Linked DNA regions of Homo sapiens. The protein of the gene in region 3 purifies or fractionates together with the protein of the main gene of each other region. This does not show direct contact. Each region holds a gene or a part of one and is shown on either strand. Other genes may lie near its edges.

Evidence for each region.
Region 1: the proteins of CD33 (region 3) and SAAL1 purify together in Homo sapiens (affinity purification with mass spectrometry; 2 studies listed by BioGRID and IntAct, with this or other methods). This does not show direct contact.
Region 2: the proteins of CD33 (region 3) and SLC39A11 purify together in Homo sapiens (affinity purification with mass spectrometry; 4 studies listed by BioGRID and IntAct, with this or other methods). This does not show direct contact.

What each region holds. Positions count from the first base shown.
Region 1 is NC_000011.10:18,103,081-18,110,032, reverse strand, and holds the start of SAAL1 (protein SAAL1), read left to right. Parts: upstream 1-3,950; 5' UTR 3,951-3,991; coding exon 3,992-4,126; intron 4,127-6,686; coding exon 6,687-6,800; intron 6,801-6,952. UniProt on the Homo sapiens protein: Plays a role in promoting the proliferation of synovial fibroblasts in response to pro-inflammatory stimuli.
Region 2 is NC_000017.11:72,844,687-72,851,714, forward strand, and holds part of SLC39A11 (zinc transporter ZIP11), read right to left. Parts: intron 5,119-7,028; coding exon 4,948-5,118; intron 1-4,947. UniProt on the Homo sapiens protein: Zinc importer that regulates cytosolic zinc concentrations either via zinc influx from the extracellular compartment or efflux from intracellular organelles such as Golgi apparatus. May transport copper ions as well.
Region 3 is NC_000019.10:51,228,052-51,235,079, reverse strand, and holds part of CD33 (myeloid cell surface antigen CD33 isoform 1 precursor), read right to left. Parts: intron 1-7,028. UniProt on the Homo sapiens protein: Sialic-acid-binding immunoglobulin-like lectin (Siglec) that plays a role in mediating cell-cell interactions and in maintaining immune cells in a resting state.

The DNA.
Region 1 (6,952 bases), on a different chromosome or scaffold from region 3:
GATCACCACTCACTGCAGTCTCAACTTCTTGGGCTCAAGCTACCCTCCCACCTCAACCTCCTGAGTAGCTGGGACTACAGGTGCTCCCCACCACACCTGGCTAATTTTAAAAAGAACATTTGTAGAGACAGGGTCTTACTATGTTGCCCAGGTTGGTCTTGAACTCCTGGGCTCAAGTGATCCTCCCACCTTAGCCTCCCAAAATGCTGAGATTACAGGCATGAGAACACCGTACCTGGCCTGTACAGTACTTTCAATAACCTTTGAGTAACTAGGGAAGGCATGAATTGACTTGTGTTCAGGATCAAAGTGAGAGATATTGGGACAAAAAAAAAGAAAGGAAAAAAAACCTGCTTTCTGGTTATAAAATGTAATTCTGTTTGATTAGCACACTGATGACATTGGAGAGTGTGTAATAACTAAGGATTATGATTAATCCAATTCTGTGCACCTGAGATCCAAAGAGAAAAGAAAAAAAACAAAACTCATGGAGCCTAGCTGTGAGTATCAGACTCAAATAAAAGTTGAGAAGACATTGGGAGGTTATCTCAGTAATGCCAACAACTTACAAATGAATTTTAGACTGGCCTCTTTCTTTTTTTTTTTTTTTTTTGAGACAGGATCTCACTCTGTCACCCAGGCTGGAGTGCACCGGTGCGATTTCAGCTCACTGCAACATCCACCTCCCAGGCTCAAGCCATCTTCCCAGCTGGGAATACAGGTGTGCGCAACCATGCCTGGCTAATTTTCATATTTTTTGTAGAGACCAGGTTTCTCCATGTTTTCCAGGCTGGTCTTGAACTCCTGACCTCAAGTGATCAGCCCACCTCAGCCTCCCAAAGTGCTAGGATTATAGGCATGAGCCATCGCGCCCAGTCCTGGCCTCTTCTTTTTAAAACTCATTTTTATTTTATTAAGAATAAAACAAATAATATACCATGAGTATATGTCAAAATTTAACATAAATTATATATCATAAACCAGCAAGTATTGAATTGTGGACTCACATCAATATGATGGTTGGTAAACATAACCTATATGTGTGTATATGATAAAAGAAATGAGTTGGGAGGCCGAGGCGGTGGATCACGAGGTCAGGAGATCGAGACCATCCTGGCCAGCATGGTGAAACCCCGTCTCTACTAAAAATACAAAGAATATTAGCCAGGCGTGGTGGTGGGCACTTGTAGTCCCAGCTACTCGGGAGGCTGAGGCAGGAGAATGGTGTGAACCCGGGAGGCGGAGCTTGCGGTGAGCCGAGATCGTGCCACTGCACTCCAGCCTGGGCGACAGAGCGAGACTCCATCTCAAAAGATAAATAAATACATTAATTAATTAAAATAAAATAAATAAAAGAAATGAGCTGGGTATGGTTGCTCATGCCTGTAATCTTAACACTTTTGGAGGCTGAGGTGGGAGGATCACTTGAGATCAGGAGTTGGAGACCAGCCTGAGCAACACAGGGAGACCTTCTGTCTCCAAAAAGGTAACTCTCTGCAAGCCTGACTGCTGAAACTGCCTCTTGTAAACGGAGACCAGTTTTATCTAACAACTGCTGAAACAACCTACTGTGACTCTAAGACTAATTTTACCTGCTGCCATCTCTCACCAATCCTAGCTTGCAAGCTCCCCCAAACCTTACTAAAACCAATAAAATTTCTTTCAAAACAACGTGTAACATTTCTCCTTTTTATAAAAGCCCCAACCTTCTCTTTGTACTTCAGATATATTGAAGACGCCCACCTGTCTCATCTGTGTGTATGCCCTGAATTGTAATTCTTACTTTCTAAATCAATTGCTTTAAATTTAGAGATTCATCTCTATGTTTTGTTTGACTTTGACGTAAGTATCACAGTAATTCTAGGCAAACATTGGACACCTTCATTATGTTTTCTAATATAGTTATGACTGAGTATTTAAAATATTCATGTGGACATTTTATTTTAAATAATTTCGGCCGGGCGCGGTGGCCCGCGCCTGTAATCCCAGCACTTTGGTAGGCCGAGGCGGGCGGATCACGAGGTCAGGAGATCGAGACCATCCTGGCTAACACGGTGAAACCCCGTCCCTACTAAAAATACAAAAAAAAAATTAGCCGGGCGAGGTGGCGGGAGCCTGTAGTCCCAGCTACTCTGAAGGCTGAGGCAGGAGAATGACGGGAACCCCAAGGGGCGGAGCCTGCAGTGAGCCGAGATCGCGCCACTGCACTCCAGCCTGGGCGACAGCGAGACTCCGTCTCAAAATAAATAAAATAAATAAATAAATAAATAATTTCATGTCTCCATTCCTGTTTGGTCATTATATTGATATTTTTGAAATTTCATGTGGAAGTAGCTTATATCATCTATAAATTTAATTCCATTAAATCAAAGTGGGTACTTGTAAATCAATTCCATCATAGGTAATTTTTTTAGTTTAATGTTTACGATTCTTATGGAGAAAGAAGTGTTTTTCATTTACCTTTGCATGGGTGCTTAAAATACACATTTCTATTTCAAGATGACACTGAAAAATTCTTCTAATATAACAGCAGCAAAAATGTAATTCTGCAATTACAAAAGTGCTAAACTGAAATCCATAATTAAGGTTTTCTCATGTTTACAATTGTGGTTCTTTAATCAATACTAATACTATGCAGGTCTGTTGTAAGGTTTCTAGATTCGGTTTAAACACACGCACACAATACTGTCAGTTGTAGGAGGCTTTACAAGTTATATTTCATGCACTTTTTTTTAAAGAGTTCTAAAAGAGCCAACCAGTCCACAAGACAGACAGAAAAAAAGTTAAATTAACTGGAGTAAATTGGACTCTTAACATTCGAAACATGCAAGATTCTGCAGCAAACTGGGAGTACTTCAGGATTGGCCTGCTATCTTCCTTAGTATTAATTTCATCTTAACAGTTTAAGAAGTTGGACATTTTAACACCATCAAGCGCATTTAGGTGACGTGTTTCTTGTGTGTTAACTTGGCTCCCCGGAATGATCTAGTTAGTGAACTAGTCACTAATAATTTGGTCACCAGGCAAATCAAGCCTACACGAAAGGAAGCGACTATTCAAAATACCGTAGTATCATCTGAACCTACCCAAATAATTTATGTTCAACATAAACATGTAACTTCAATAATGAGATGACTCATTAATGAGTCAAGCTCCTCCAACAAGACAAAGACAACATCTCTTCTTCTAAGGTTTAAGTTTTGCATAGAAATCCGGATACATGGAATAGCCCATACCAACAGTCATTGCTCCTACAACAAAGCTGGACTGCCACACGCATGTGGATCAGGTGACGTGATATTTTAGTATTTCCCCTGCTTTTCAATTTGTATAATCCGTATGCAGCAACTACTGCAAAACCTGCCATTCCAATGGGGACAAATGGTGCCTCTTTAGTTTTTCGAATCACTTTGGATCCCTGGAATCCCTCACAAGCCATCCAGCTTCCCCTACGGATATTTTTAGGAATGGCAACAGTGGCCAGAGATCAGAGGATTATATTATTAGGGTTATACAACTTTTATATAAAAAAAGTGGCTTCTGACCAGGCGCGGTGGCTCACGTTTGTAATCCCAACACTTTGGGAGGCCGAGGCAGAAGGATTGCTTGAGCCAGAAGTTCGAGACCAGCCTGGGCAACATAGATCAGAAGGCGAATAGAATAAGTCCGCTAGCTTTGAGATTCACATCTGTTCCTGAGGCTTCCTCACTGCTCCCCACCCTTCCTTCTTCAATCAGTCTAAGAGCTCCTGGAGAAATGGAACACCTGATTCAGTGAGGGTGACAAATAATTATGAGTATGTTCGTGCCAGGGTCCTCGATAGGATGGGGTGGGGGAGGTCAAGCCGCCTTGGCAGCTGGCCAGGCTCCGAACAGCAGATGGCGCTGTAGGGGGAGTCCCACCGGGTACGCCGGGCGCTCTGGCACTAGGGCGCCGGTCGTCTCCTCCGCAGCTTCCGGCACGGCCTTCAAGCGCGGGACGCGACAAAGTCATGGACCGCAACCCCTCGCCGCCGCCGCCGGGTCGCGACAAGGAGGAGGAGGAGGAGGTGGCCGGTGGAGACTGCATAGGGAGCACGGTCTACAGCAAACACTGGCTCTTCGGCGTCCTCAGCGGACTCATCCAGGTGTGGAAACTCGCGCCACGCGTGGGGTGTCCCTACATCCCCCAGGCACCGGGGCTCCGCCTCTGGCGAATCCTCCTGCCCCGGGAGCCGCCATCCCCACAAAGACCCCTCCCCAGGCGTGCGCTGCGGGACCTTGCTCCTTGCGTTTCGCCGGCCGCTGCGGACCCCAAAACTATCTGGGCCCCCTCGGGGTCTCTCGACACAAAGGGAAGTATAATGGTAGGGATGCTGAAATACTTGCCGTTCTATTTTGCTTTCCCAAGTTCTCCAAAAATACATGATCGTGTAACTGCATTCCTCGGGTTTTGCTCCCCATCCCCACTGTCATTTCTGAAGCCCAGGTCCTTAATTTATGTATTTCATGGACTATCGTTGTAATAGAATAAATGGTGACTTTAGGGTTATACAACTTTTATATTAAAAACGTGGCTTCTGACCAGGCGCGGTGGCTCACCTCTGTAATCCCAACACTTTGGGAGGCCGAGGCGGAAGGATCGCTTGAGCCAGGAGTTTGAGACCAGCCTGGGCAACATAGACCTGGTTTCTACAAACTTAAAAAAAAAAAAAAAAAAAAGCCGGTCGTGACGGTGCACGCCTGTAGTCCCAGCGACTCAGGAGGCTGAGGCTGGAGGATCGCTTGAGCCTGAAGTTGGAGGCTGCAGTGAGCTATGATCCAGCTTCTGCACTCCAGGCTGGGGGACGGAGTAAGACCCTGTCTCAAAAAAACAAAAAACGCAGCTTCCTTACCCACTAGCTGCAGGTCACCTAACGGCTCAGAACCTCTATTTGTCCCTTAATTTCTATAAAATGGGATTATAATATTTATATTATATATAAGGTTATTGTGTAGGTTAAGTGAGATTATAATGGCAACAGAGTGCTTAGCATGGTGTTTGGCTTATAGGAGGCTGTCAGTAAATGTGTTTTCTTCCCCCCATGTTTCCCTAATTGGTTCCTCTCCTCCTATTGTCTATCCTCTCCAGTCAATTTTCTACACAGCTGCCAGAATAATCTTCTTTAAAGACAGGGCTATTCATGATACTGCTCTTAGTTCTTTTTGCCTGGGAGAAAAATGCATGTTTCTTGAAGTTTGGAATCCAGGGCTGTTTGTACATTTTCCAGCCTCATCTTCTCATGATACACTGTGTTCCATCAACTCTGAACTGTTCACCATCCCCAAACATGCTAGGCCCTTTCTTAACTCTGAACTCTTGTGCTTTCCTCTGAATACTCACTTCTCTCCTTCTTCACATGACAAACTACTATTCTTCCTTTAAAATTTAGCTTAAATATCAGCACCTAAGGGAAGGTTCCCCATCTTCTCCTAGGAATAGGTCATTGGTCCATCGTTTTTGCTACCAGAACTCTTTGTCCACAATTCAGTTGAATCACTTTGCCTTTTCTAATATGACTATCCCTTTACATGTCTTTCCCCACTAGATCCTAAAAGTTAAAAAAAAAAAAAAGCTTAAATGTAAGGGATTATATCTTACTTGTCTTTGTATATCTACCCCAGTGCCTAGCAACAGTATTTACTTTGTGAATGTTGAAAGAGTAGATCTACCCAAGGTACTACATTTTTAAAAGAAGATTTTTGCAAGAGAAGATACTTTGCTGATAGCCTCTTTGTGACTTCTAAACGATTATGGGTTAATATTAAAGTAAGTGCTCACTTAACATCAGTAGGTTCTTGGAAATTGTGACTGTAAGCAAAATTACTGATAATGAAACCAATTTTACCATAGCTAATTGATATAAACAAGAGTTAAGTCCCTGTGGCATATTTCTGGACACAAGAACATCACCAAACTTCTAAATGAGGACCTAAAACACTTCTAATATTAAACATTGAGATAAATGTGAGCTATAATACGTTTAGGAAAGGTTAATAAAAACAAGATAATTATTCACCCAGTTTTGGTGAGTTAGTGAGTGATGGTGGTTGTAGTGATTATCACTACAACCTTTATTCTTTGATTGTGTTAAATCAAGGAATAAATGTTTACAAAGCAAAAATGATCACCTCTTACTACTGTACAGTCCAAAAACAATAACAAATAAGGCAGGCTTACTGAGCACTTTCCTACCACATAATTATTGTCACGCATCTCTATGGTTATTGTCTTCTTTACAGATTTTTGTTTTATAATAATTTGTATTCATCCATTTCCCAACCCACTTGCTCTGGTTCAGGGTTGAGGGTGGCTGGAGCCTGTACCAGCAGTTCAAGGTGCAAGGCAGAAACCAGCCCTGGACAGGATGCCATCCCATCACAGGTACACACACACCCACACTCACTCAGATTGGGACCATTTAGATACCCGTTGTGCTAATGTGCAAATTTGGGGGATGTAGGAGGAAACTAAAGTACCTGGAACAGACTCATGCACTCTTGGGGAGAACATGCAAACTCCACACAGACAGTGGCCCTGGCCAGGAATCAAATTTTTTTCTCATCAGCGTTACGAGGAAATGTTATTTGATCACCTGCTGTATTTGGGTACCTGGTTAGTATTGTAGACAACTTTTATTCATGTTTTCTTTCTTTGTGTTTCTGAAGATTGTTAGCCCTGAAAACACCAAATCTAGCTCAGATGATGAGGAGCAGCTGACGGAGCTTGATGAAGAAATGGAGAATGAAATTTGCAGAGTATGGGATATGTCAATGGATGAGGTATGAGGCTGGAAACAAAACTCTGAAGACTGTTGGGTGAGGAGATGGTGAATGAATGTTTTAAAAACGGTTCAGTCCTTCACTCTGGGGAAAGGCTTTATCTCCTGTCTGTAATCACACCCATATATGATATAGGGAATGAGATCCCAGGG
Region 2 (7,028 bases), on a different chromosome or scaffold from region 3:
ACAAAAAACATTCATGGGCCAATGATTCAGAAATCTATAACTCTAGCTAGACTTTGCAAGCCAACTCCAAACTCATGTATCCAGCTGTCTAGTCAGTATCTCCATTTGAATGTCTAATGGCAATCAAACCTCACAATCAAAAAACAAATTCCTGATAGTCCCCCTAAAGCCCCTGGAGCTGCAGCCTTCCTCGTCTCAGTTGATGGCAATTCCATCCCTGCAGCTGGGCAGCCCTGAAACCTCCGGGTCCCTCCTGGCTCCTCGCTTTCTCTCATATCCCACATCCAATCCATCGGCAAATCCCATTGGCTCCACCTTCAATCGGGACCCAGGAAGGGATCCCTTCTCACCACATCCAGCACGACCACCTTGGTCTGCACCACTATCATCTTTGATCTGGATTCTGCAGTGGCCTCTACATAGGCCTCCCTGCTTCCATCCTTACCTCTCCTAAGTCCCATCTCAATTCAGTATCTAAAGAGAAACAAACTTTCAAAGCTCAAGTCAAGTCATACACACCCTCTTCAAAACTCTGCAATGGCTCATCACACACAGAGCAAAAACAAACATTCTTATGCCTCCAAGTTCCATCTAAAGGAGGGGCTGACATCCCTGCCCTCACCTTGTACTTCTCTCCCTGCTGCTCACCCTGCTGTGGCCACAGTGGACTCTTGGCTACTCCTTGTGGGGGCCAGACATGCTCCTGCCTCAGGGCCTTTGCACTGGCTGTTCCCTCTGCCTAAAACACTCACTGTTTCCCAGAGATCTGCATGACTGACTCAAATTCAAGGACATCTCAAGGAGCCCCTCCCTACCTACTCTATTTAAAATGGCAATTTCTTCCTCTAACACTCTACCGTCTCCTCTGCCCTGTTGAACTTTTTCTTTTTTTAAATCACTAACCACCTTCTAACACAATATAAAATTCATTTATTATGATGATGTTCATCGACTATCTCACCTTGCTATAATATTGGTTATAGAAGGCCAGAGATCTTGGTCTGTTTTAGTACTGATATAACCCAAGTACATGGAATACAATACTCAAATATAATAAATAAAAGACAAGACTGGGAAAGAAATGTCCCTTCAAACCTCTCCATCCAGTCAAGCCAGCTGTCCTCCAGTTTACTGAAACCAGTGACTATTACCACCATGCTTCTGGTGAAATCTAACTCAATTGAGATTCCTGGAAGGCACTCAATCCTCATTTCAATTTATTTTTTATTTTACTATTATTTTTGAGACGGAGTCTCGCTGTGTCACCCAGGATGGAGTGTGGAGATAAGAGAATCCATCTTTCAAACCAATGAATCTCTCTCTCTCTCTCTCTTTTTTTTTTTTTTTTTTTTTTTTTTTTTGAGACAGAGCCTTGCTTTGTCGCCCAGGCTGCAGTGCAGTAGCATGATCTTGGCTCACTGCAACCTCTGCCTCCTGGGTTCAAGTGATTCTCCTGCCTCAGCCTCCCAAGTAGCTGGGATTACAGGCATGTGCCACCACTCCCAGCTAATTTTTGTATTTTTAGTAGAGACGGGGTTTCGCCATGTTGGCCAGGCTGGTCTCAAACTCCTGACCTCAAGTGATCCGCCCACCTTGGCTTCCCAAAGTGCTGGGATTACAGGCATGAGCCACTGCACCTGGCCTCAATCCTTATTTGAAAAAATACTTTTGCATCACCATAGAAGTGACAAAGGCTGAACTTAGACTTGGAAACTCCAAAGACACAGAATAGGGTCTCCTGTCAGGGAAGAAGTAAGATTTTAATTTATGCTCATTTAAGATCATCAAATATTGCTGTCATTCCACACATCTTCCTCCTGTTTCTGGCTTTATTCCAAGTTGTCACTGGAGTCAACAAACATTTGAGAAAGTAAACTCTGAACCATCCTGGCCTTCCATTGGGATGAGCCAGGAAATAATTCCAGCTGAGCATAATGAATCACCCAAGTACAGTGGCAGGTGTGGTATATAAAAGGGTCCATTAGAGGAAAGTTGGATACTCATTCCATTGCTATAAAGTCTGGACCTTAGACCACATTTTTGTTCTTCAGAGAAATAGTTGCCGTAATACACCTCAGTGTAGTTACCTTATTTAACACTAAACCCACTGGGCAGATCTTTACTCTTCCTCAATTGGCTAAAGAAGGGGTCATAAATGGCAGAAAGACAGCTACTATTATGAATGAAAAACAAGTAACCTCTCTTCTCTAACTATTAGCACTTAACAGGCTACAAGTTGCTGTCAGGGCTCCTAAGTAGTCCTCTGCAGGGGACCAAGGGGTCTTTCAATGACCTCTTTAAGATACGGGGTGGGCACGAGCAGGGTCTTCCACCAAGGCTAACCCACTTTGGCCATCTTTGTGCAGTGAGGTCCATATAAGACCCCATCTTTATCTCAAGACATACTGAATACCAAGATCTAGAAAACCAACAGGGTCAGATGCTGTGGCTCATGCCCGTAATCCCAGCACTTTGAGAGGCTGAGGTGGGCTAATCACTTGAGGCCGGGAGTTTAAGACCAGCCTGGCCAACATGGTGAAACCCCGTCTCTTCGAAAAATACAAAAATTAGCTGGGCATGATGGCACACATCTTTAATCCCAGCTACTCGGGAGGCCGAGACAGGAGAATTGCTTGAACCGGGAAGTGGAGATTGAAGTGAGCTGAGACTGCACCACTGCACTCCAGCCTGGGCGACAGAGCGAGACTCTGTCTCATAAAAAAAAAAAAAAAAAAAATTGGAAAACCAACTAAAAAAAGCTTATTCATAACTCAAAGAAAAGGGTCAAGAGGGGAATGAGGGAGACACATAAACTGATGAAAATGTTGGGAAAACTGGCCTACCTATGATCGTATGATAGACATTCCTAAGATTAGGATAGAAATAACAGAGGAATGTGCTTCTTATCTAGAGAAATATCTGAGCTTAAAAAGTAATTAAACACATAGTGCTTTCGGCAGATTTAATATATACTAGAATATATAATATGTATTAGAATTTTCACACTTTAAAGACGACAAAAAAAAGTCTTCATTGTGCAAGCAAAACAATATCAAGTTATACAGAGGAACAGACTCACTTTGGCCATGCTTTTTGCTTCCACAATACTAAAGCCAGAAGACAAGGGATCAACATCTGCAGAAGCTTTGTAGAGAAAAATGTCATGACTAGAAAGCTTTGCCCAGCCAAGTTCTTGCTCCTGTATTAGAGTAACAGATTGGCACCATGAACTCTGCAAGGACTCAGAAAATGTATCACCCAAGGATGCTCCCTGGGGAAGATTATTGCTCAAACTCGAATTCCCAAACAACAAAAGGTGGGTCAGCATGTTTAAGATCTCAAGATCGAGGAAATCATGGCTGAAAAGGCAGCAGGAGTATCATCGATGCCAACAATGCGCTCGTAAGTCCCAAGCACTGTACTGAAAGCTGTATGTATATTTAGCATCTCATTTAATTCTCTAAGTAAGCCACTTGTGGCATTATCCCCATTTCTTAGATGAGAAAACCAAGGTTCAGGGAGTTCAAGCAATTCGTCAAGATAACCTCCTTAGGAAGTGAGAGAGTTGGAATTTCAAAATGCATCCCAAATTGCTCAGGTTCCCTCAGTTTATTTATTTTTAAAAATATCTTTATCATTTCCTATGCTTAATCATGTTTTCTAGTTGCTCTAAAAGAAACATTCATTGTTTTTGAAATAAGGCATTAATATGTCCTTTTTTCCAATTAAAATACATCTAAAGACATAAAACAGGCCAGCGTGGTAGCTCACGCCTGTAGTCCCAACACTTTGAGGGGCCGAGGCAGGTGGATGACCTGAGGTCAGGAGTTCAAGACCAGCCTGGCCAACATGGTGAAACCCCATCTCTACTAAAAATACAAAAAATTAGCAAGGCATGGTGGTGCACACCTGTAATCCCAGCTACTCAAGAGGCTGTGGCAGGAGAATCACTTGAACCCAGGAGGCAGAGGCTGCAGTAAGCCAAGATCGCTCCACTGCACTCCAGCCTGGGGGACAGAGCAAGACTCTGTCTTAAAAAAAAAAAAAGACATAAAAGAAATTACTCTAAAATGCTAAATAGGAAAGGATTGGTAAGAACATTTCAGAAAGATGCCCACATAAAGAAGGCAGGTAAGGCAATTATCAGTGCCAAATTATACTGAACTCAATAGACTTGACCCTCGAACAATGCAGACGTTAGGAATGCTGGTTCCCTGCGCAGTAGAAAATCTGCAGAGAGTTTTTGGCTTCCCCAAAACTTAACTATGAATAACCTGCTGTTGACCAGAAGTCTTACCAATAACATAGTCAATTAGTACATATAGTGTATGTTATATGTATTATAAACTGTATTCTTACAATATAGCAATCTCAAGAAAAAATGTTATTAAGGAATTCATAAGATAACATATATTTACTATTCATTAAGTGGAAGTGAGTCATCATAAAGGTCTCATCCTCATCCTCTTCACATTGAGTCAGCTGAGGAAGAGGAGGGGTTGGTCTTGCTCTCTCAGGGGGCAGAGGCGGAAGAAAATCTGAGTGTAAGTGAACTCACGTAGTTCAGATCTGTGTTGTTCAAGGGTCAACTATGTTTTCAAATAGCATTAAGCAGAACCAGAGATACCCAGTATTTATAAAAGATACCCTCCACAGCAATCATGTAACAGTTATGAATTTATGCTCCAAATAACTTGGTAACAAATATGTAAACAAAAAGGAAGTAGAAGTTGTTTAAACTAACCGGAATGGGAAGTTTTCACATATGATGATCTATCTATGACGATCAAAAAATAAAGCCAAGAAAGATTTGTACTGCCACCTTCACTCCTCTCCAAAAAGGACCCACGTCACAATTGCCCCTTCCCCTTTTCCAGCCAGACAACTGTGCTGACAAATGACTTTACCTTCAGGCAGTGGCTGTCACGCTCACGGGCAAGACCTCACCTGGAACGTTGTGTATAGTGATGGCCAAGATGAGCAGTGCGATCCTCCTCCAGCTGCTGCCGCCGGGCTGTGCCAGATTCCCTCGAGAAGGCACAGGGACAGCAGGACCCTCTGGAAGGCCAGTGGCTGCCGCCTTCTTTCTCTGATATGCCTCACCATTCTCACTCTTGTCTGAGCAAAAAAAAAAAAAAAGAGAGATGGGGAAAGACAGCGCTTTGAACATGTGCACGTTAACTCTCCAGCAAGCTACAGCAGGAAGAAGCTTCTTTTTCTTTTTTGAGACAGGGTCTTACTCTGTCACCCAGCCTGGAGGGCAATGGTGTGATCACAACTCACTGCAGCCCCAACTTCCCGGGCTCAAGCCATCCTCCCATCTCAGCCTCCCAAGTAGCTGGGACTGCCATCTTCACTCCTCTCCAAAAAGGACCCACGTCACAATTGCCCATTCCAAACTTCCTGTAGACTATGCATGCTTCTGTGTGTTCTCTCATTCACTCAGGCATCCATTCATTCAGCGAACAATTCATTGACTAGGCTGAGCATGGTCACTCACGCCTGAAATCCCAACACTTCGGGAGGCTGAGGCAGGCAGATGGCTTGAGCCCAGGAGTTCGAGACCAGCCTGGGCAACATGGCACAATCCCATCTCTACAAAAAATAAAAATAAAGAATTAGCTAGGCGTGGTGGTATGCACCTGCAGTCCCAGCTACTTGGGAGGCTGAGATGGGAGGATGGCTTGAGCCCGGGAAGTTGAGGCTGCAGTGAGTTGTGATCACACCATTGGCCTCCAGCCTGGGTGACAGAGTAAGACCCTGTCTCAAAAAAGAAAAAGAAAAAAAAAATCACTGAACAGGCATTCAGTGCCCAATGCATAGGTACCAAGAAGGATAAAAAAGATGAAGATGTGGTATCCTAGCAATGCCTGTTTAAGACAAGCAATGTTGAGTCATGATTAGAGACACAGATGCCAGAACCATGCTGCCTGCTTCCCTTCCTGACTCAGCCACTGGCCAGCTGTGTAGTGCCAAATAAGTTGTTTCACCTCTCTGTGCAGTGGTTTTCTGATTCGTAAAACTAGAATAATAGCATTACCTATGTCACAAGCGTTTTGTGAGGATTAAATGCAACAATGTCTGAAAGTACTTAGAATGTACTAAGTGCTGATTGTATTGATGGTTATTGTTAGTATCATGTTCCCTCTCCCATAGCCGTACAGAATTACATAATATGTGACCCTGCTCTCCTGGTCACACTGATTTATGGGAACCAATTCAGACGCCTGGCTCAGCCAATCAGAATCCCTCTCCAGGGAGAATTGGCCACTCCAACGTGCAAGCTAAATCTGAAAAATCACGTGATGCGCGAGCAGCTCTGCCACAATGGAACGAGGGAAGCGGCTGGACAGACAATCAGAAGGAATCAGATATACATCAACAAGCAGAGATGGGAAACCATGCAGCTAGACAGGAGAGAGAAGGGCAGAACTGCAGCCCACGTGCCACAGACATTCATGGGCCATCCGTAGCACCCAGCCCTTGGGTTTTCTGAGCAAACCTTCCTTTTAAAAATGCCTTTACAAATTGGCTTATATTGGAAGAATGTCATTCTTAGAACCTTATTCTAAATATCCATGGTCCCCTGGGCTATTTGTTTATTCATAATGGAGCCAAATTGTGTGGATTTGAAATTGGGAGGACAAGAGTGGGAGAGAGCATCCAGCTTTCAGTTCACAGCATGGGATGGATTTGTGGGGAAGGCTTTCTAGAGGAGATAGGTCTTGAGTGAATCTTAAACACGTGATGGCACAGACAGAATGAAGGGTCCCTTTATTGGGAGAGAAAACCCAGCAAGCATAACTCAGGTGTCTGTTAAATTAAATAAGCAAAAGGCCATTGGTCTGAGGCTGTACTTTGAGTTGCTTCGCAGTGAACTACAACCTAACTTAGTATGTATACAAATGAAAATCTCATTAGGAGTATATATTTTTTGTAATAGGATAGCTAGATCTCAGTCAATCACAAGCGGCTGAGCTTCAACCAATCACAGGCAGCCAAGCTTCAGCCAACCAGAGGCAGCCAAC
Region 3 (7,028 bases):
AGGGGTGACTTCACCTCCAAAATGGGGTTTAGCTCCTAGATCTTCCCACCCATCATAGACATCAATATTGACCACGACCATGAGATGAAGTACACAGTGCACCTGACACCTCTTGTCCCACCCTCTCTCTCTGGTGCACAAAACATCATCTCTCCTAGGACTCAGGTTCCTCTCCACCCTGGGTCTTTCTGAAATGAACCTCAGACATAGCCCCTGAAGGACTGTGAAGCTCTGAGCCTCTTGGATGAGAGAGAGAGAAAGCACTGGAATGCTGATAGGCCTTGTCTCTTCTTTCTTCCCACTGGCCCCATCACTTAGGGTCAAAGGTGGTCCTTTTGGCCTTAAAAAGGGCCTGGAAGCAGGGTGGGGCAGGGAGGTGGTTCTCAGACCTTCTTAGACCCAGACAGTTCTCCTGGACCTGCCTGGCTGTGCCTTCTAGGTCCCAACACTCAGAGTCAGGGGCGTGTCTCTGAGCATCATTGTTAACAGTTTGATAACCACTACTGAGGGAACTGTTCCTGCTCTCACTGGGCTCACTGTCCACTGAGGTGCCAGATGCCATTATTAATTGGAATAGGGCAGTGGAGAGAGCACTGGTCTTTGGACAGAGGCCAGGGCTAAGGGTTGAGGTATGGACAGTAGAAAAAAATGCCCTAAAGAGATTTTTAGGGAAGTGTGACTATTCTATATGATACTCTCATGGTGGATTCATGTCATTATACATTTTTAAAAAGCCTGTAAAATGTACAACACCAAGAGTGAACTTTAATGTAAACTATGGGCTTCAGGTGACAATGATATGTCAATGTAGTTTTATTGACTGTAACAAATGTACCACTCTGATGGGGGATGCTGATGGCCGGGGAAACTATGTGTAAGGGTAGAGGGCATACGGGAAGTCTTAGTATCTTCTGCTCAATTTCTTCATGAAAAATAAGGTTCATTTATAAATGCTCCCAAGATGATCAGCGACTAGAAGATTCCACTCAATTTTGCTGTGAAACAAAAACTACTCTGAAAAATAAAACCTATTAAAAAAAAATGCCCCCATTGGAGCAAAATGGCTCACCGGAGGTGCCTGGAGCTCATCCTCCCCCGTGTCACCAGACAAGAAAGGACCAAGGCAATGAATAAACCACAGCAAAGATTTGAGTGGAGTGTCGAAGGGAGAGTAGTGTAGTGCAGCAAGGGAGTGGAGAGTTACCTGTGGTAATTGGAAACCCAGGAGGGCAGCATGGAGGCACCCGGGCTTTGCAGCTCCATCTCCCCAGCCCAGATTGGTTTGTCCCAGAGACAGGAAGGATTTCCCCTTGTAGGGAAATGATAAGCAGAGGAATCCAACCAACCTCCAGTGCCACTGCAGATACCTACATTCCTTACTACAGGTTAATCTTACAGTCCTCACAAGCTCTGAGCACAGTTGGAAGAGCTGCCAGGAATTCACACAGCTGCATGGAGCATTTGGTGTGCACTCCCAACTCCCTAACCAGCCCCTGCGGGCAAGCTGCTACAACACAGAACCATCTTGAGACCACAGCCATCTCTGGAGTGCACCCTCCTCTGGGGGCCAGTGGCATGCACCTCTTTATCATTGTGCATCTTCATTCCACTAAACCTGCAGTAGTGGCTGAATACCACAATTAGAGCTGCATGGAGCCTGGGCCCAGGATTGGCTGGGACTCTGGCCCTGAACAGCAGAGAAACCAACCCCTGCTGCCCGTACTTCCAGCTGGAGGAAAGGTCTTATAGTCCCACTCAGGGCGAACACACAATTGAGTTGGCCAAACTACTGTGCATGCTCACCTGAATGGGAGAGACCTCTGAGCCAACAAAGAGTTGATACATCCCCAGGCTGGGGTAGTGGTTATGTGCTCACACACAGGCTCTGAGAAACAGCCTTACGGTGCCCAGACGCCTTCTGTGGACATGACTCTGGCCTGCCCAAAGGCCACTCTCCCACAATTAGGGCCTGAGAAACAGCCTTGTGAGCCAACCCTTTTAGACATGACCCCAGGCAGAATGTGCTTGCATTCCAGGCCTGAGAAACAGCCCCATGGGCTACCACTGGCTGGTACACCCCCTAGGCCAGCTGAGCAGTCTTACACTCACATCCCAAACCCTAGATAAAGCTCTGAGTGCTACTCCTGGCAAAAACACACCTAGGCCAGCCAAGAGTCATTCAGCTTCATCTCAGCCCTGCAAAACAGCCATGTTGGCACCTCCAGCAGATATGCCCCCAGGTCAGCCAAGTAGTTGGGCACCTGTGTCCCATTGTTTTAATTCATGACTTGAAAGAGAAATTTAACAGAGAGATAGATATTATATAAAAGAACAAAGCAGAACTCCTACAGCTGAGAACTCAATAAATGAAATAAAAAACCGCAATCGAGAGCTTCAACAACAGGCTAGGTCAAGAAGAAAAAATAATTTCTGAACTTGAAGACAGATCTTCTGAAATAACACAGGCAGGTAAAAATAAGAGAATAAAATAGAACGAAGGAAACCTACAGGACTCATGGGACACAATCAAGCAAATATTCACATTATGGTATTTCCAGGAGGAGAAGAGAATGGAAAAGGTGTAGAAAACATATTTAATCCAGTAATAGGTGAAAACTTCCCAAGCCTTGGGAACTAGAAGGACATCCAGGTCCAGGAAGCTCAAAGTACTCTCAAAATATTCAACCCAAGCAAGTCCTCTCCAAAGCTCATTATGCCAAATTGTCAAAAGTCAAGTAAAGAATTGTAAAAACAGCAAGGTAAAAGTATCTAGTCACATATAGGATTATCCTTATTAGACTAACAGTGAGTTTCTCAGCAGTAACATTATATAGGCCAGGATAGAATGGGATGACATACTCAAAGTACTGAAAGATAAAAAACTTAACAGTCAAAAATACTATACCCAGAAAAGCTATCTTTCAGAAAAGAAGGAGAAATAAAATATTTCATAGATAAGCAAAAACTAAGGGAATTCTAATCACTCTTAGACTGGCCTTACAAGAAATGCTCAAGGGGCCAGGCACAGTGTGGCTCATGCCTATAATCCCAGCACATTGGGAGGTGAAGGCAGGCAGGTGGACCACTTGAGCTCTTTAATTTGAGACCAGCTTAGGCAAATGGCAACACCCTACCTCTACAAGAAACACAAAAATTAGCTGGGCGTGGTGGCACATGCCTGTAGTCCCAGCTACTTGGGAGGTTAAGGCAGGAAGATTGCTTAAGCCCAGGAGGTCGAGACTATAGTGAGCCGTGATCATGCCACTGCACTCCTGCCTGGGCGACAGAGTGAGACACTTTCTCAAAAAAAAAATAATAAAAATAAATAAGAGAAGAAAAAGAAAAGAAATGCTCAAGGGAGTCTTACATCTGGAAGTGAAAAGGCAAAAACACGTGAACTTAAAACTCACTGACAGCCCATACACAAAGAAGAAAGAGAAAGGAATCAAATCTTATCACTACAAAAAAAAAAAAAACATCAGCCAACCACAAAAAGAAACAATAAGAGGGGAAGTAAGGAACCAGGAATATATAAAACAATCAGAAAACAATCAATGAAATGAAAATAACCTATTAATAATAATGTGTATGTAAATGGATTAAATTGTCCCATTTAAAATATATGGACTGCCTGAATGAATGAAAAGAAAATCTAGACTCAGCTTGTTGGGGTGATCAGATCCAACACTAGGCCGTGGGGGCCACGAAGTCCAGCGGAGTCAAAGGAATGAGACAAGACAAGTTAATAGTACATAAAGTGAGTCCAGGGGGCCGACGCTAGTATGGAGGCTGTGAAGGCCCCGAGCTCTGGGAGCCCACACTATTTATTGGTAATCAAACAAAGAAGCAGGTGGTGAGGACGTGCAGAAGTGGGGATAGACAAGTGAGAACGTGAGGACTTTGGGGTAGAAAGGTAGCGGTGCATCAAGCATAGCTGTGACGGTTTAGCATATGCTCTGCTACTTGAAATAATGGAGAACAAGTTCTTTTCACTCAAGATACAATCAATTTATGATCCTGGGAGAGCAAGGAGCAAGGGGCCAGCAAGTCTGGACACATTCCAGAGGCTATGAGGGGTTTTATGCCCAGAGCCCTGGATTCTTTCCAAGCCACGAGGGGTTTTATGCCCTGGGCTTAGATTGCAGTGTGGCAGGGCAGCCTTCCACCCTTAGGCACAGAGCTTGGTGTTCCATAGGCCACGAGGGGTTTGAGACCCTGGACCCAGGACATGTTCCAAGACTCTTTTACATTATGTCAGACAAGCAAGCCCTGCCTCAGCCCTTCTACCAACACAGCTATATACTGCTTACAAGAAACTTATCTCACCTAGAAGACACACATAGACTGAAAAGGAAGAGATGGAAAAAGATATTCTACCCAAGTGGAAATGAAAGGAAGCAGGAATAGCTATACTTATCTCAGACAAAACGGACTACAAGTCAAAAGCTGTAAAGAGACAAAGAAGGACATTATATTATTATAAAGGGGTCAGTTCAGCACTATAATATAACAACTGTAAATACATATGCACACAACACCAGAGCACCCAGATATGTAAAGCAAATATTATTAGATATAAAGGGAGAGATAGACTCCAATACAATAATAGTTGAGGACTTCAACGCCCCACTCTCAGCATTGAACAAATCATCTAGACAAGATTAACAAATAAACGTTGGATTTAAACTGCACCATATACCAAATGAACCTAAGATATTTACAGAACATTTCAACCGACAGCTGCAGAATACACATGGTTTCATCAGCATGTGCAACATTCCCAAGGATCGACCATATGTTAGAACACAAAACAAGTGCCAAAAATTTTTAAAAACCAAAATGTATCAAGTATCTTATTTGACTACAATTGAATAAAACTAAAAATCAATACCAAGGGAAACATGCAAACTATACAAATACACAGAAATGAAACAAAATGATTCTAAATGACCAATAGTGAAGGAAGAAATTAAGAATGATATTTAAAAATTTCTCAAAATAAATAAAAATAGAAATAAAATATACCAAAACCTATGGGACACAGCAAAAACAGTTTTAAGAGACAACTTGAGAGAAATAAATGCCTACATCAAACAATTAGACAAATTTCAAGTAAACCATTTAACTGTGCATTTCAAGAAACTAGAAAGCAAGAACAAACCAAATCCAAAATCAGCACAATGAAAGAAATCATAAAGATCAGAGCAGAAATAAATGAAATTAAAAAAAAATCAATGAACAAGTTCGCTTTTTGGAAAAATAAATAAAATTGACAATCATTAGCTAAACTAAGAAAGAGACAGAAGACATAAAAATTAATAAAATCATAAATAAAAAAGAAGATGTCACAATGGTTACCACAGAAATACACAGGATCTTAGACACTACTATGAACAATATGCCAACAAATTTGAAAGTCTAGAAGAAATGGATAAGTTCCTGGACACATATAATCTACCGAGATTGAATCAAGAAGGTATAGAAAACTTCAGCAGACAAACAACAAGTAATGAGATTGAATGAATAATAAAAGGCCCCCCAACAAAGAAAATTCCAGGGCTGGATGGCTTCAGTGCTGAACTTTACTGAACCTTTAAAGAAAAAAAAATTATGCCAACTCTTCTCAAACTATTCCAAAAAATTGAAGTGGAGGCAACTCTTCCTAACTCATTCTACAAGGCCAGCATAACCATGACACCAAAATCAGAAAGGAGACAATAAAAAAAGAAAACTAGAGGCCAATATCCCTGATGAACATAGATGCAAAAATATTCAACAAAATAGTAGCAAATCAAATCCAACAATACATCAAAAAGATAACATACCATGATAAAGTGGGATTAATCCCAGAAAGGCAAGAATGATTCAACATATGCAAATCAATAAATGTTATACATATGTCAACAGAATGAAGGACATAAACCGTATGATCACCTAAATAGTTGCAGAATAAAAAGCATGTGTTAAAATTCAATATTGTTTCATGATAGAAACTCTCAATAAATTAGGTATAGAAGGAAAGTACCTCAACACAAAAAAGGCCATATATGACAAACCCATGGCTAACATCATACTGAATGGAGAAAAGCTGAAATCTTTTCCTCTAGGAACTGGATGTCCACTGTTATGACTCTTATTTTACATAGTACTGAAAGTCCTAGCCAGAGCAATTAGGCAAGAGAAAGAAATAAAAACCATCCAAACTGGAAAGGCGGAAGTCAAATTGTCTCTGCAAATAACATACAAAAACCTAAAGACTTGGCCAGGCGTGGTGGCTCATGCCTGTAATTCCAGCACTTTAGGAGGCCAAAGTGGGCAGATTGCTTGAGGCCAGGAGATCAAGACCAGCTTGGCCAACATGGTGAAATTCCATCTCAAAAACAAAACAAAACAAAACAAAACAAAACAAAAACCTAAAGACTCTAACAATAAAACTCTCAGAACTGATAAATGAATTTAGTAAATTTGCAGGATGCAAAATCAATATACAAAAATCAGTAGCATTTCTACACACAATGAATTAGCTGAAAATAAATCAGGAAGGCAATCACATTTACAATAGCTATAAGAGAATGAAGTATACCTAGGAATAAATTTAACCAAGGAGGTGACAAGCCTTAATAAGAAAAACTACAAAACACTGAGGAAATAAACTGAAGAGGATACAAACAAATGGAAAGACATTCCTTACTCATCAGATGAATTAATATTGCTAAAATGATTATACTACCCAAAGAAATCTACAGATTCAAACCTGGCTCTATCAAAATATCAATGTAATTCTTCACAGAATTAGAGGAAACAATCTTAAAATTCATATGGAACTAAAAATAGCCTGAATGGTCAAAGCAATCCCAAGCAAAAAAGAACAAAGCTGGAGGTATCACACTACAAGATTTCAAAATTTCAAAACTAGAAAATTTCAAAATTTCAAAAATTTAAAGATTTCAAAACTACAAAGCTGTAGTAACCAAAACAGCATGATATTGGCATAAAAGCAGATACATACACCAATAATACATAATAGA